Linked DNA regions of Homo sapiens. The protein of the gene in region 1 interacts with the protein of each later gene in a biochemical or structural test. Each region holds a gene or a part of one and is shown on either strand. Other genes may lie near its edges. The genes, in order: INSIG2 and PCK1.

Region 1 (3,921 bases):
TAATAAGAACTGATGGTACTGTCTTAATCTTGTTAATCCAGTTGACTACTTTGCATGTCATTGGCCTTGCTAATAGAGTGAGAGAATTGTTAGATTACTGATTCTTTACTTTGTTTGGATCATGGACTTTTTTGAGTACTTTATATAAATTATGGAACTTTCATCCCAGAAAAAAATGCATATATATACAACTTTTTTGTTTTGTTTCGCATGGGGGTCTCATACCCCTTGGAATAGATGATTTCCCAGTTCCCTGCTATTTCTTAAAGCTTTTATTTTTTGTCACCAGTAATTATATACTATTGTATTATGATGTAGTTACAAAATTAGCTTTTTGAATCTCATTCAAATAAATGTCAAGCAAATGTGTTATTTTTAAGGAAAACTTTTGGGGCGAAGTAGAAAACTAAACAAGCACTGCCAGGAAAGGTTAAATAAGCAGCTGTGGTAGAAAACATAAATAAACAGAAAGTCTCTAGCTGTCTTGAAATAGAATGAAGTCTGTAGCAATCAGTGGCTCTCATTGTGGGGACAGTTTTGGTTATCACAAATAGGGGAGGGGGCATTTAGTGGGTGGGAGCCAGGGATGCTAAATGTTTTGCAATGCTTAGAACAGTCTCACACAGCAAATAATTGTCCTGCCTAAAATATCAGTGCCCTTTGACAAATGCTGGTCAGTGTGAGATGGGGGCTAGCATGACTGAAATAGCTTTTTTAAACTGAAGTTATTTTCCTTTTTAAAAATACTATTAAACATAAAATACCCCTTTCCATTAATTCCCTTTTGGAAAAATCACAAACAGAAACAAATGATACGCTGTCTCAATGTGGGTTACTCAAAGTATGCCCATCTTCTAGCAGCTGTTAGCAGCACGTGAGGGCAACGTGCTGTGTCTACTGGGATCTGGGGAAGTAAAGAGTCAACTAATGTTCTTATACAGAGTGTTAGTTTGCTATTTTTTCTTTTTACTTTAAAACATTTTCACACCTTGATCTAGTACTATTAAAGAAAATTTCAAGGTGATTTTACATTTATTCTCATCATCTTTGTGCAATTGTATAGTCACCTGCTTGTTTTGGCTTACTATCTGAGAGTGTATTATAGTTGAGATGGTATTTCAACATCTAACCATCTTTTCAGTAACCAAACACTTTTATATAGAACCATCTGCCGAAAAAGAAGTCTGAGCAGTTGAGATGGAATGGAATTCAAGGTATAGAGGCAAGAGGATGGGTTTTGGAATCAGACCTGAAGTGGAATTTCAGTTTTGATACTGCATGTCATGTGACCATAAGCAAATTGCTGAATCTCTTTGACTTGGTAGCCTCATCTGTAAAATGAGGATGATAATGTCTACCTTTATGTTTGTTTTGAAGAGTAGAGTTACTATATGTCTGGCAGGGAGTAGGCCTTCCATAAATGGGTGCCCTATAAAGAATAATGATGATGATGATGAGGAGGAGAGTTCTGTAGCTACTGAACCTTGCTAAAAGCAACCAGATGATGATGATGATGATGATGATGAGGACGAGGAGAGTTCTGTAGCTACTGAACCTTGCTAAAAGCAACCAGATTATGATGATGATGAGGAGGAGGAGGAGGAGGAGAGTTCTGTAGCTACTGAACCTTGCTAAAAGCAACCAGATGATGATGATGAGGAGGAGGAGGAGGAGGAGGAGGAGAGTTCTGTAGCTACTGAACCTTGCCAAAAGCAACCAGATGATGATGATGATGATGATGATGAAGGAGAGTTCTGTAGCTACTGAACCTTGCCAAAAGCAACCAGATGATGATGATGATGATGATGAAGGAGAGTTCTGTAGCTACTGAACCTTGCCAAAAGCAACCAGATGATGATGATGATGATGATGATGATGATGATGATGATGGAGAGTTCTGTAGCTACTGAACCTTGCTGAAAGCAACCAGATGATGATGATGAGGAGGAGGAGGAGGAGGAGGAGGAGAGTTCTGTAGCTACTGAACCTTGCCAAAAGCAACCAGATGATGATGATGATGATGATGATGATGAAGGAGAGTTCTGTAGCTACTGAACCTTGCCAAAAGCAACCAGATGATGATGATGATGATGATGAAGGAGAGTTCTGTAGCTACTGAACCTTGCCAAAAGCAACCAGATGATGATGATGATGATGATGATGATGATGATGATGATGGAGAGTTCTGTAGCTACTGAACCTTGCTGAAAGCAACCAGATGATGATGATGATGAGGAGGAGGAGGAGGAGGAGGAGAGTTCTGTAGCTACTGAACCTTGCTAAAAGCAACCAGATGATGATGATGAGGAGGAGGAGGAGGAGGAGGAGGAGAGTTCTGTAGCTACTGAACCTTGCCAAGAGCAACCAGATGATGATGATGATGAAGGAGAGTTCTGTAGCTACTGAACCTTGCCAAAAGCAACCAGATGATGATGTTGATGATGATGAAGGAGAGTTCTGTAGCTACTGAACCTTGCTGAAAGCAACCAGATGATGATGATGATGAGGAGGAGGAGGAGGAGGAGGAGAGTTCTGTAGCTACTGAACCTTGCTAAAAGCAACCAGATGATGATGATGATGATGAGGAGGAGGAGGAGGAGGAGGAGGAGGAGGAGAGTTCTGTAGCTACTGAACCTTGCCAAAAGCAACCAGATGATGATGATGATGATGATGATGATGATGATGATGATGGAGAGTTCTGTAGCTACTGAACCTTGCTGAAAGCAACCAGATGATGATGATGATGAGGAGGAGGAGGAGGAGGAGGAGAGTTCTGTAGCTACTGAACCTTGCTAAAAGCAACCAGATGATGATGATGATGAGGAGGAGGAGGAGGAGAGTTCTGTAGCTACTGAACCTTGCCAAAAGCAACCAGATGATGATGATGATGATGATGATGATGATGATGAAGGAGAGTTCTGTAGCTACTGAACCTTGCCAAAAGCAACCAGATGATGATGATGATGAAGGAGAGTTCTGTAGCTACTGAACCTTGCCAAAAGCAACCAGATGATGATGATGATGATGATGGAGAGTTCTGTAGCTACTGAACCTTGCTGAAAGCAACCAGAATGCATGGCATGCTCATATGCCTGGATTCCACAGCAAGGAATGGTCTGCAGGATCAGGTCAGGAGGAGATGTTTCAGGGCATTTTCAGTTGGTATTTAGAGTATGTTTTCCCATGAATTAGCTATACTGTGGATTAGTTTTTTTAGTCCTTTAAGCCATAGAGTTCAATTACATTATAGACTAAGTAGGTCAGTGAGGACTAGCTTGGGAACAGAATTTCCTCTTGAATGTTGAACACAGAGCTTTGATGTGGCATAGCCCCAGTAAAAAGGCCCGTTGTCTAAGTGTTTATCACATGGAACTGACAGGTTGTGGAGGTTACTAGTACTTACAGATATTCTCATTTTCATACTAGTTATTTGTAATTCAGCCCCATTCTCTGCGGTTTACATGAGGGCTTTGTTCCAAAATTCATTCAAAGGTTGTTTGATACTGGAAAACTCAGAGGAAATGTATAAATTTTATGTGATGATTAGGAGCTAGGTTTGCTCTCAAAAAGGCCTACTTTACCCTATATGGTTTGATTCAGAAAGAGTTAACCCAATTTAATTAAGCAAATATGATTATGTGGAGCTCCCACTGTGGGCTAAGCAGGAACTTTTCTGGGTGCATAGGCACAGTGATATTAATATAATAGTGAATAAGACCTTCATAAAACATTTACAATCCATAAAGCAACTATACCTTTAATTAGAAAGTAGTCATTATAAGTGCTACACTTTTTAAAATAAACTGCTTTTGGATTGAAGGAAATATCATTTCTGTACCGATTTATGAAAGTGCCAAAGATATATTGTTGGATGGGATAAAAGTAAATTACCTGTGTAGTATTTTTCCCATTTAAAAACTG
Region 2 (3,921 bases), on another chromosome or scaffold:
TCCAGAGAACTCTGTCCTTTGAGGCAAGTCTGTAAACCAATGTTTGCTTTTTAACATTTTGACAAGGGACAGTTGCGGGGGAATCATTACCGTCCTTCCACGCTGTAAATGCAGGTAATGAAAGGATCGGATGAAGGTCGTTGGTGACTCACTGCTCTGACGTTTTACTTGAACTAGCTGTTTCTCTCCCAGAAGACTCAGAACATAAGCACCTGGAATGGATGGGTCGCATTTAGGACTCCAAATGAGTTCTGCTTTCCCTTTTTGTTTTCAATCTATGTGCTCTTTCAGGTACTCAAACCTGTTACCGTTTTATCAGCAAAATGGGACTTTCTACCAATTTGGTGGGATGAGTCTCGCCGGGAGTGATGTGTGTGTCACGGAATTGTGGTCATGCATCGGGATGGCTAATTCACTGATGTCAGATGCTAACGAAGTGGCCTCGGCTACTGAGCATCACGTCACTGTTGGGTTTAGACACAACACGATCTTATGTATGGATGACAGCACCACTAATAACAAATGCCAGTGACCTAAACGGGGAATAACTTCAAATGAAACAAAAAGCACCTCATATCATATTTATCCTGAAAGACACAACTGGCTGAATAAAATCTGAATACAGGAAACATAGCAATGGGTTGATAATTTTGGTGGAACTTGATGATGTGTGACCCACGCCCAACACAGTGTGACCCAAGCCCCCAGGAGGGTTCTCTAAGTGAGTTTGGTCGGAGGCTGCCATTCACAGTGACTTGTATTTGCCACAGCAGCTCTTTCTAAGCCCAGTCCTGGGATTATCTCAGGGATCATCCCACACCCCAGCGGGGAGATGGGCCAAGTCCCCACCTGACCTCATCTTAGGTAGAGAGGCTTCCATGGAAGTGTGGGCTGGCTGTGGGGGGTTGAGACCTAGCCCCGTTCTTTTGACATTTCACCCTGTGTTCTCCAAACTCCAGCAAGCAGCTTCCATAGCTCATTAAATTTGACTGAAGGTCTGATGGCTTGCAAAGCAAATTCTTTACAACTGTTATAAAGGTTTCATTGCTTAAGCATATAATCTAGCAAAACTGCCAAGCCCCCTCCACTCCCTAAACTCTAAGACTTGCCAGGGAAGAGAACAGTGGCCAGTGGACTGCAGGAGTAACTGCACTCAGCCCAGAACTCCCTGGAGGACACAGGGAAGGTTCTGGAAAGGTGGCGGTACCTCACAGGGAGAGACGTGGTGCTCCAGGGCCCAACTTGCTCATGTTCAGATCCTCACTCTGCAACCCACCAGCCGGCTGTGAGTGGCTACACAATCTCTGCCTCAGTTTCCCTATCTGTACATGGGTTGTTCATAGCCTCCACCTCAGAGGGTAGTAATGATGCCAAGCTCTTAGAACAGTGCTCAGCATGTGTGCATCCTGTGCCTACTCTATGCCAAGCACTACAGAGAGAAAAATGAACAAAATAGGGAGAAATCCCTGCCCTCATGGAGTTTACATCGGGGCAGGGGGCGGGGGCGGCACAGAGCAGACAATCAATACAGTGATTAGCCCCCAGTTAGGTTAGGCATTTCCAATCTTTGCCAATAAGCCACATATTTGCCCAAGTTAGGGTGCATCCTTCCCATGAACTTTGACTGTGACCTTTGACTATGGGGTGACATCTTATAGCTGTGGTGTTTTGCCAACCAGCAGCTCTTGGTACACAAAATGTGCTGCTAGCAGGTGCCCCGGCCAACCTTGTCCTTGACCCACCTGCCTGTTAAGAAAAGGGTGTTGTGTTTTGCAACAGCAGTAAAATGGGTCAAGGTTTAGTCAGTTGGAAGTTGTGTCAAAACTCACTATGGTTGGTTGAGGGCTCGAAGTCTCCCAGCATTCATTAACAACTATCTGTTCAATGATTATCTCCCTGGGGCGTGTTGCAGTGAGTTGGCCCAAAGCATAACTGACCCTGGCCGTGATCCAGAGACCTGCCCCCTGACGTCAGTGGCGAGCCTCCCTGGGTGCAGCTGAGGGGCAGGGCTATTCTTTTCCACAGTATTTAAAGCTGGGAGGTTCTGCCACCAAGCACGGCCTTCCCACTGGGAACACAAACTTGCTGGCGGGAAGAGCCCGGAAAGAAACCTGTGGATCTCCCTTCGAGATCATCCAAAGAGAAGAAAGGTAAGTAGAGCTTTGCATTTACATTTTGAAAAATTACAAAGATGAACTCATTTTTTTCCTGAGAGCAATAACTATTTGGCAATGCACAGCCCTGGCAAAAGGCCGTCGAATGTGTTTGAAGGTGTCTGTTGTTGTTTTTGTTCAGGACGCTTGCGTTTTCTATTTCAGGTGACCTCACATTCGTGCCCCTTAGCAGCACTCTGCAGAAATGCCTCCTCAGCTGCAAAACGGCCTGAACCTCTCGGCCAAAGTTGTCCAGGGAAGCCTGGACAGCCTACCCCAGGCAGTGAGGGAGTTTCTCGAGAATAACGCTGAGCTGTGTCAGCCTGATCACATCCACATCTGTGACGGCTCTGAGGAGGAGAATGGGCGGCTTCTGGGCCAGATGGAGGAAGAGGGCATCCTCAGGCGGCTGAAGAAGTATGACAACTGGTAAGCTCGGCCCCCGCTGCCTGTCCCAGCACCCTGCAGGCAGGGCTCCCCTGCGTCTCCTGGGAGTTGGTGGAGAAAGGTGAATGAAGGCCTTCGGGTAGTTTCAGACTCTTGAGAAGATGAATGCAATGGTCAGAACCATACAGACTTGAATTTTGTGACATTAGTGGGCCAGCCCAAGCTTTAAATGAGGTGTGTGCACAAAAGCTCTGCCAACTAGATTCCTGATTAAAAAAAAGGCAGCCCCTCTCCTACAGACCAGGTCCTAGTGGAGTAAATGTCCACCTGGCCATGTCTTAGATGGTCTGTGTGTTCACACTGATGGACTGTTGTTAGCGTGCTCAGCACTCTGCTAGGCATGGAAAGCCACGGTACTGAAGGAGATGGTTCGCTGCCCGTGGTGCTTGGCTGAAAGGAAGCCTGTGATTTTTGCAGCTGGTTGGCTCTCACTGACCCCAGGGATGTGGCCAGGATCGAAAGCAAGACGGTTATCGTCACCCAAGAGCAAAGAGACACAGTGCCCATCCCCAAAACAGGCCTCAGCCAGCTCGGTCGCTGGATGTCAGAGGAGGATTTTGAGAAAGCGTTCAATGCCAGGTTCCCAGGGTGCATGAAAGGTGAGCGGAACATTGATTTGATTGGGTAAAACAGCAGAGAGCCTTTTCTTATTTACATCTATCCTAATGGTAATTCAAACAATAATGGAAGCTCCCACCACCTCAGATGTCTTTCAGTTCCATACATGAAGTTGGCAATGTATTGAAAATGCACATCCCTCTTCTGCTTTTACAGACTGTCTTATACAAACGTGAAAACTAGTTCCATGCATATGGGTTTTAAATAGCTTGGTGGGACCCAATTGCACATTTATGAAAACTCTTTAATTTCAGCAGGCTGTTCACTTTCCAGTGGCCTCTTCTAACCCAGGGGGCTGGTGACCAGCAGGGTGTGGTGGTGTTAGTGGAACACCGTGAAAATGGGTCTACCTGGGAAAAAAATGCTGGTCGTGTTCGAAGTCCAAGGTCATTTCTCACCAGTGCCCACCCATCGCACCCTGTAGGTCGCACCATGTACGTCATCCCATTCAGCATGGGGCCGCTGGGCTCGCCTCTGTCAAAGATCGGCATCGAGCTGACGGATTCACCCTACGTGGTGGCCAGCATGCGGATCATGACGCGGATGGGCACGCCCGTCCTGGAAGCAGTGGGCGATGGGGAGTTTGTCAAATGCCTCCATTCTGTGGGGTGCCCTCTGCCTTTACAAAGTAAGTGTATTATTTCAGAATCAAAAGTCAAAATAAAAAAGAAAGCTGAACGCAAACCCCAGTGAGTGCCTCGGG

The links.
Region 2: the proteins of INSIG2 (region 1) and PCK1 form a complex in vitro, tested with the Homo sapiens proteins (one study listed by BioGRID).

Annotation. Positions count from the first base shown.
Region 1 is NC_000002.12:118,091,360-118,095,280, forward strand, and holds part of INSIG2 (insulin-induced gene 2 protein), read left to right. Parts: intron 1-3,921. UniProt on the Homo sapiens protein: Oxysterol-binding protein that mediates feedback control of cholesterol synthesis by controlling both endoplasmic reticulum to Golgi transport of SCAP and degradation of HMGCR.
Region 2 is NC_000020.11:57,559,054-57,562,974, forward strand, and holds the start of PCK1 (phosphoenolpyruvate carboxykinase, cytosolic [GTP]), read left to right. Parts: upstream 1-2,056; 5' UTR 2,057-2,150; intron 2,151-2,318; 5' UTR 2,319-2,358; coding exon 2,359-2,582; intron 2,583-3,017; coding exon 3,018-3,199; intron 3,200-3,642; coding exon 3,643-3,846; intron 3,847-3,921. UniProt on the Homo sapiens protein: Cytosolic phosphoenolpyruvate carboxykinase that catalyzes the reversible decarboxylation and phosphorylation of oxaloacetate (OAA) and acts as the rate-limiting enzyme in gluconeogenesis.